2 separate regions of the Homo sapiens genome follow, and region 2 is linked to region 1. The links come from fine-mapping of genetic effects on gene expression. A gene starts in region 1. The other region holds a variant in brackets. All regions are shown on one strand. Distances are between the middles of the regions.

Evidence for each region. PIP is the estimated chance that this variant, and not a neighbour inherited with it, causes the effect.
Region 2: its variant is fine-mapped to the expression of CLDN10 in tibial artery (GTEx, PIP 0.99).

The regions. Positions count from the first base shown.
Region 1 is chr13:95,551,630-95,554,535 of GRCh38, reverse strand. CLDN10 (claudin 10) reads right to left here and starts at 1,816. Exons shown (of 5, transcript NM_006984.5): 1 at 1,563-1,816. The coding sequence starts at 1,782.
Region 2 is chr13:95,482,061-95,484,966 of GRCh38, reverse strand. The region is part of intron 3 of CLDN10-AS1 (CLDN10 antisense RNA 1); the gene reads left to right. It also overlaps a transcript of CLDN10 not described here. Among named protein-coding and RNA genes, the nearest start is that of CLDN10-AS1, 50 kb to the left of the region's middle. The variant A/G (reference allele first, on the strand shown) is at 1,169.

The DNA.
Region 1 (2,906 bases):
TACTTCCTCTTCACTCCCGGCCCGATCTGCCCCCAAACAGGTATGGTACCACCTCCACTCTCACTGCAGACATGTAGGAGAAAACTTTATTATTCTGCACTTAATAATATTCATAGAGCATTCATTTCCTTCTCTCCCTTGTCCCCCAACTGTCCTACAGAAGGAAGCGTACCTATCTGGCACACTATCTCAGAGAACAATAGAGTTACAACAGAAGAGTGTTCAGAGGACAGTAACACATTGCTGACTATAAATCACAGGAACAAGAGAATGCCTGTTCATCTACCTGGATGCGTGCTCTACAAACCACAGGAAATTCAACGGTAATGCTGGGGAATAAACACTGTTCCGGCTGCTTATTTTACCGAACAGGACACGGACCCGGGCGCCACCCTTCTAAAACTAGATGCGTATTCCTTATACGGAGGTTCCATCAAATACCACGTTGAGCAACAGTTTGCTCTTCGTGGCAAACCCCATCTTAGAGGAATCAACTATTTTCTTTCATTTACCCAGCTATGTAAACAAAACCTGCAAGTGCGGTAATAAAAGAAAAAAACACCTCAAATCTAGAAATATGTAATGTAAATAACTCCTCTTAAGTTTCTGCCAGGATTCGTTTGCTGTAAAATCCTGGAAGCAACGGGCCTAGAACTTGAGCAATCAATGGGACCGGGCTGACATCGGCTGTTGTCTTGAAACTCAACAGAGCCAGAGTTCTGTGTGAATATCCACCAGCTGCTACCAGCATAAGGCCTGACTAACCAGAGCAACGCAGGTGAACCTCCACAAAGGAACAACCCAGGACAGCAGCAGGCACCGGGGACTCGGATGCAGAACTGGTCAGCTCCCGGCGCCACGCTCTCACGGCCCAAGATTCCCTACCCTCTGCGGACTCATCGCGGCACCGCAAGGGCTATTATTTTCCTAAAACTCGGAGGAAGTGTTTGTAGTGTTGCCTAGGCAGACAAGTTTGTAGAAGCTCTTTAAAGGGAAACAATAACAACAACAAATTCTGCAATATGTTTTCCCGCTTCCAACCTCTCAACCCCCACCCCCGCCTACTTTTAAAAGAACCAACGAAATGGCTCAAGGGAGGTCAGGACAAACGGATTTGGCTTGCAATGACACCATTTTTATCAGAACCCAGCCTTCGGGGAACGTAGGGGAGGGAGGTGGAGGAGACAAGCCCCTGCAGCATGAACTCTGGGTCCCAGCGGTCCCCAAGATATGGGGGGTGGGGGAGGGCAGCCGCTTCCTTGACTCTCAGGACCGCAAAGCTTCCCCATCCCCCGACGCCTGGGAGTCACCAACCCGGGCCTGTCTGCGTGTCCCCCCTCCCGGGGTCCCAGGCTCGAACAGGCGCCCCGCGAGACAGCCATCAGGAGAGGGCGGGCACCAGGAGCGTCCCTGGCTCCCTAAGGCCCTGTTGGGAGAGACGGGTCGGGCCTCAGAGGAGTCCAGTCTAGGGGTCCCGCTGGGGGTATTGGGGGCGAGAGGGCGCCTAGCGGGCTGGCCATCAAGGAAGGAGGGCTGAGGGCGGGGGCCGCGGGGATGCAGACCGTCCAGCGCCAGCATGGAGGGGAAGTCCTTGCAGTTGGAGACGCCCGTGGAGTCGGTAACGCACGCCTTCCACAGGTTGGCCCAATAGGTGGCGGTTGTGATGACCGTGCCGTCGATGGTAGACACCTTCCAGTAGTCGGTGGGCAGCGTGGAGGACACCAGTACCCAGCCTGAGATGGAGACCATGAAGGCGATGATCTCCGAAGCCGTGCTAGCCATGCCGCCGGCTGCAGCCGCGCTCGCTCTCCGGCTCCCACTCTGCGCCGCGACCCCCGCACTCCCAACCCCGGGGCTCCGCCTCCCGCCTCCGCCTCCGCCCACCGTCCCCGCCCACCACCCCGCCCAGCGGACCCGGCGCCAGGGGGCGCACGCGACCCCTCACACCCATGCCCTGTCCCTTGAGGGGCCTCAGAGGGCTCGCGGTCGCCCCCCGGGTTCTCCATCTGCAGCTGGCCCGCGCCCGCGTGCGGGAGGAAGGCCGGCCTGCGCTCCCCTGAGCCAAAGGGCCGCGGAGAAGGGCTCGCTTGTTGGAGCGGCTCAGGTTCAGACTGGCAACCGGGTGTGGACAACCTGCTGCGCCCCCACCTCACCACCCCCACCCAGCCCTACCCAAGGCAAATAGCTTGGCTTCCTGACTACCTTGTAGAAGCAGAGCAGGAAAAGCCTTTTGCATGCCCTGAAAGGACACGGTTTGGTAACTCAGCCCTCGGTTTGCTGAACTCTAAAGGTTTGCGTGCCACGCTTGTTTGGGTGACTCTGTTTGACTTGTCAAGGAGGGATCATTGCAGATTCTGGGCTGGAAACCGGCCTTGCCCTCAAAACTCTGCAGTTCTTTTTGGCCTGGTGCTATGCGGAAAGTCATGGCAAAACGGTGCGTGGCACAGGCCTAAAGTCAAGATAGCAGCAGATGGGGCATCCTGACGATCTTGATCTTGCTGGTGTACTCATACTAATGCACTACGCAGAGGGCATTTGTTCAACACATTTTCCCTGTAGGTCCCTTCCAGCTTCCAGGTCTAGAGGCTATTCTATGAAAGGATGCTGTTATCCCAGTCAAAACTGCTATCTTGTCTTTTATTTTTTTTTAAACCACCTCCATCTCTCACGCCTAATTGAAATATAAACTCATTCATTCCTTCATCCCTTCATTGCTGTCTCAAGGTAAACATAAAGATCAAGGTGTACTTCTGGCTCCTGAGGCCACAAATCTGGGCATAAATGAGAGAACAAGGACACGGGTTATTATTTGTCCACTTAAAGGTTCTTGCAGTTTTGTTATGAGCTTCCAGGTTTCACTTGTTGCCAAAAGTAAGGAAAGGTCTAAAACCTATCAATCAGTCTGC
Region 2 (2,906 bases), 70 kb after region 1:
GGTGAAGTGGAGGCAAACTAAATCAAACTAAATAAGACCCCATCATACCATGTTGTATTGCACTCTGCTTCTTTTTTTTTTTTTTTTTTTTTTTTTTTTTTGAGACAGGGTCTCACTTTGTTACCCAGGCTGGAGTGCAGTGGCACAATCTTGGCTCATTCCAACCTCCACCTCCTGGGTCCAAGCGATTCTTGTGCCTCAGCCTCCCGAGTAGCTGGAACTACAGGTGCTTGCCACCACACCTGGCTAATTTTTGTGGGTTTTTTTTTTTTTTTTTTGTATTTTTAGTAGAGACGGGGTTTCGCCATGTTGGCCAGGCTGGTCTTGAACTCCTGACCTCAAGTGATCTGCCCACCTTGGCCTCCCAATGTGCTGGGATTACAGGCGTGAGCCACCACACCTGGCCTCATCCTGCTTCTTTACACACTTACATTTCCTGCATAACTGAAAAAACTTGACCTTGTAACACCTCTTTTCAGGGGAATGACATATAAAATTATTCATAATGACAGACTATGAAATATTTTACCAATATTTTCCTTTAAGAAAGATTAGGGAAGTAGTGTTTAGGATAGATTCTACATGGAACAAATTAGAAGTAGAAAGACCAGTCAAGAAGTATCTGAACAGAATGATAGCCGAGTGGTGTGCAGTGGATACTGTGATATGCTGCCCAGAAAGGACAGTGAAGGACATCAGGCCCCAGCTGCTAGAAGTGCTGCTGCAGTCAGCCTGTAGCTCTTAGCCCTCTCAGAAAGTGACTGAGCTGCAGAGAGCTGCCTCACCCAAGGACATGCCCTATCTTTGTCCTTTTGGGCTGCTATCCTACCAGAGACTAAGTAGTTCAAAAACAACAGAAATGTATTTCTCACAATTCTAGAGGCTGGGAAGGCCAAAGTCAAGGCACCAGCAAATTTGATGCCTGGTGAGGGTTGGCTTCCTAACTGATAGAGAATGTCTTCTTACTGTATCCTCATGTGGTGGAAGGGATAAGGGAGGGACCTCTCTGGGGTGTCTTCTATAAGGGCACTAATCCCATCCCGAGGGCTCCATCCTTGTGACCTAATCACCTCCCAAAGGCCCCACATCCCAATACCATCACCTTGGGGGTTAGCATTTTAACATACGAGTTTTGGAGGGACACAAATATTCAGACCATAGCACACTC[A/G]TGCCTGGGGAAGCTCATATCGAGTGACCAATGGATGGTGGAGCATAAGGGCTTGGCCAGCTCAGCCATGCTTGGCATGTTTCTAAAAGTCCACCTAACTCCAGAGCTCTTGGTGAGGTTTGCTGAGACTGTCAGCCTTGGGTTGTAGCTCAACGTCACTGCTCTGCCCACTCCTGCTTCTGTCCCCTACCTTCCACAGGTGTGGTCCCTCCCACAGGCACGCCTTCATGAAATGCCTCTTTAGAGTCTGGTTTCTGGGGATACAACCTGTGATGCTTAAAAAATTAAGAGGCCGGGCACAGTGGGTCATGCCTATAATCCTAGCACTTTGGGAGGCCAAAGCAGGAGGATTGCTTGAGCTCAGTAGTTGAAGACCAGCCTGGGCAACATAGTGAGACCATGTCTCTACAAAAAATTTTAATAAAAAAGAAAGAAAAAAAATTAGAGATGAGAAATGAGGGGAGGAGAGGGAAATTGAGAAATAAGCTTAGATAATTTTCACCCTAAGGGTAAATCTCCCAAATAATGTTTCCCCATCTTCTCAGAGAGCCCACAGTCTGAACGAGGAGAAAGCTGTTCAATGAAAAATCAATAAGTAGTCAGGTGAATCCTCCAGGAATCTGCACAGAGTGGCAGTGCCACACCTTTTACATAAACCAACCTCCTCACTCTCCCCTCCTCAGCAGCTCCCAGGCCTGAGGACGGGCAGCGTCACTTTCTCCCAAGAACGATGGAGAATCATTTCTCACCAGTAAGAATGTTGGCCTCACATTAAATTCGTGATGTTTAATGGGCTTATTTATGTATTTATTTATTTTTGAAATGGAGTTTCGCTCTTGTTGCCCAGGCTGGAGTACAGTGGCACGATCTTGGCTCATTGCAACCTCTGCCTCCTGGGTTCAAGAGATTCTCCTGTCTTAGCCTCCGGAGTAGCTGGGATTACAGGCACACGCCACCATGCCAAGCTAATTTTTTGTATTTTTAGTAGAGATGGGGGTTTCACCATGTTGGCCAGGGTGGTCTCAAACTCCTGACCTCAGGTGATCCACCCACCTCAGCCTCCCAAAGTGCTGGGATTACAGGCGTGAGCCACCGCGCCCAGCCAGTTTATTCATTTATACTTCAATCAGGATTAAGTACATCATGAGAATAAAACAATCCAGATGGTTCTGAGACTGAATCTGAGCTCCTGGGTAACACAGCAGGGTGGATCTGGACTAGACTTCCTGCCCTGGATCAGCAAGATTGGTCTCATAGGTGTGCACTGAAGGCAGCCCGAGAAGGTGTGATTTGATGGGCACCTAGAAGACCCATCTATCCCCAAAAGACATGACTCAGTGAGGCTCTAGACCCTTTCTGCCACAGCAGCTTCATGTGGGCTTTGTAGATCAGCACAGCTCTTAGACCCAGCTGTGCACGGCGCCTGACTTGGGCCATATATATTAGAGAAGGGGTCAACAAACTACAGACTTTGGGCCAAATCTAACCTCCCCATCCAGACCTGTTTCTGTATAGCCTATGTAAAAAATGTTTTTTACATTTTAAAAATCTTTTGTAAATTTTTAAATTTGTAATTGTTGTGGGTACATAGTAGGTGTATATATTTATGGGGTACATGGGACGTTTTGATACAGGCATGCGATGTGAAATAAGCACATCATGTAACATGGGGTATCCATCCCCTCAAGCATTTATCCTTAGTGTTACAAACAATCCAATTATACTCTTTTATTTTTAC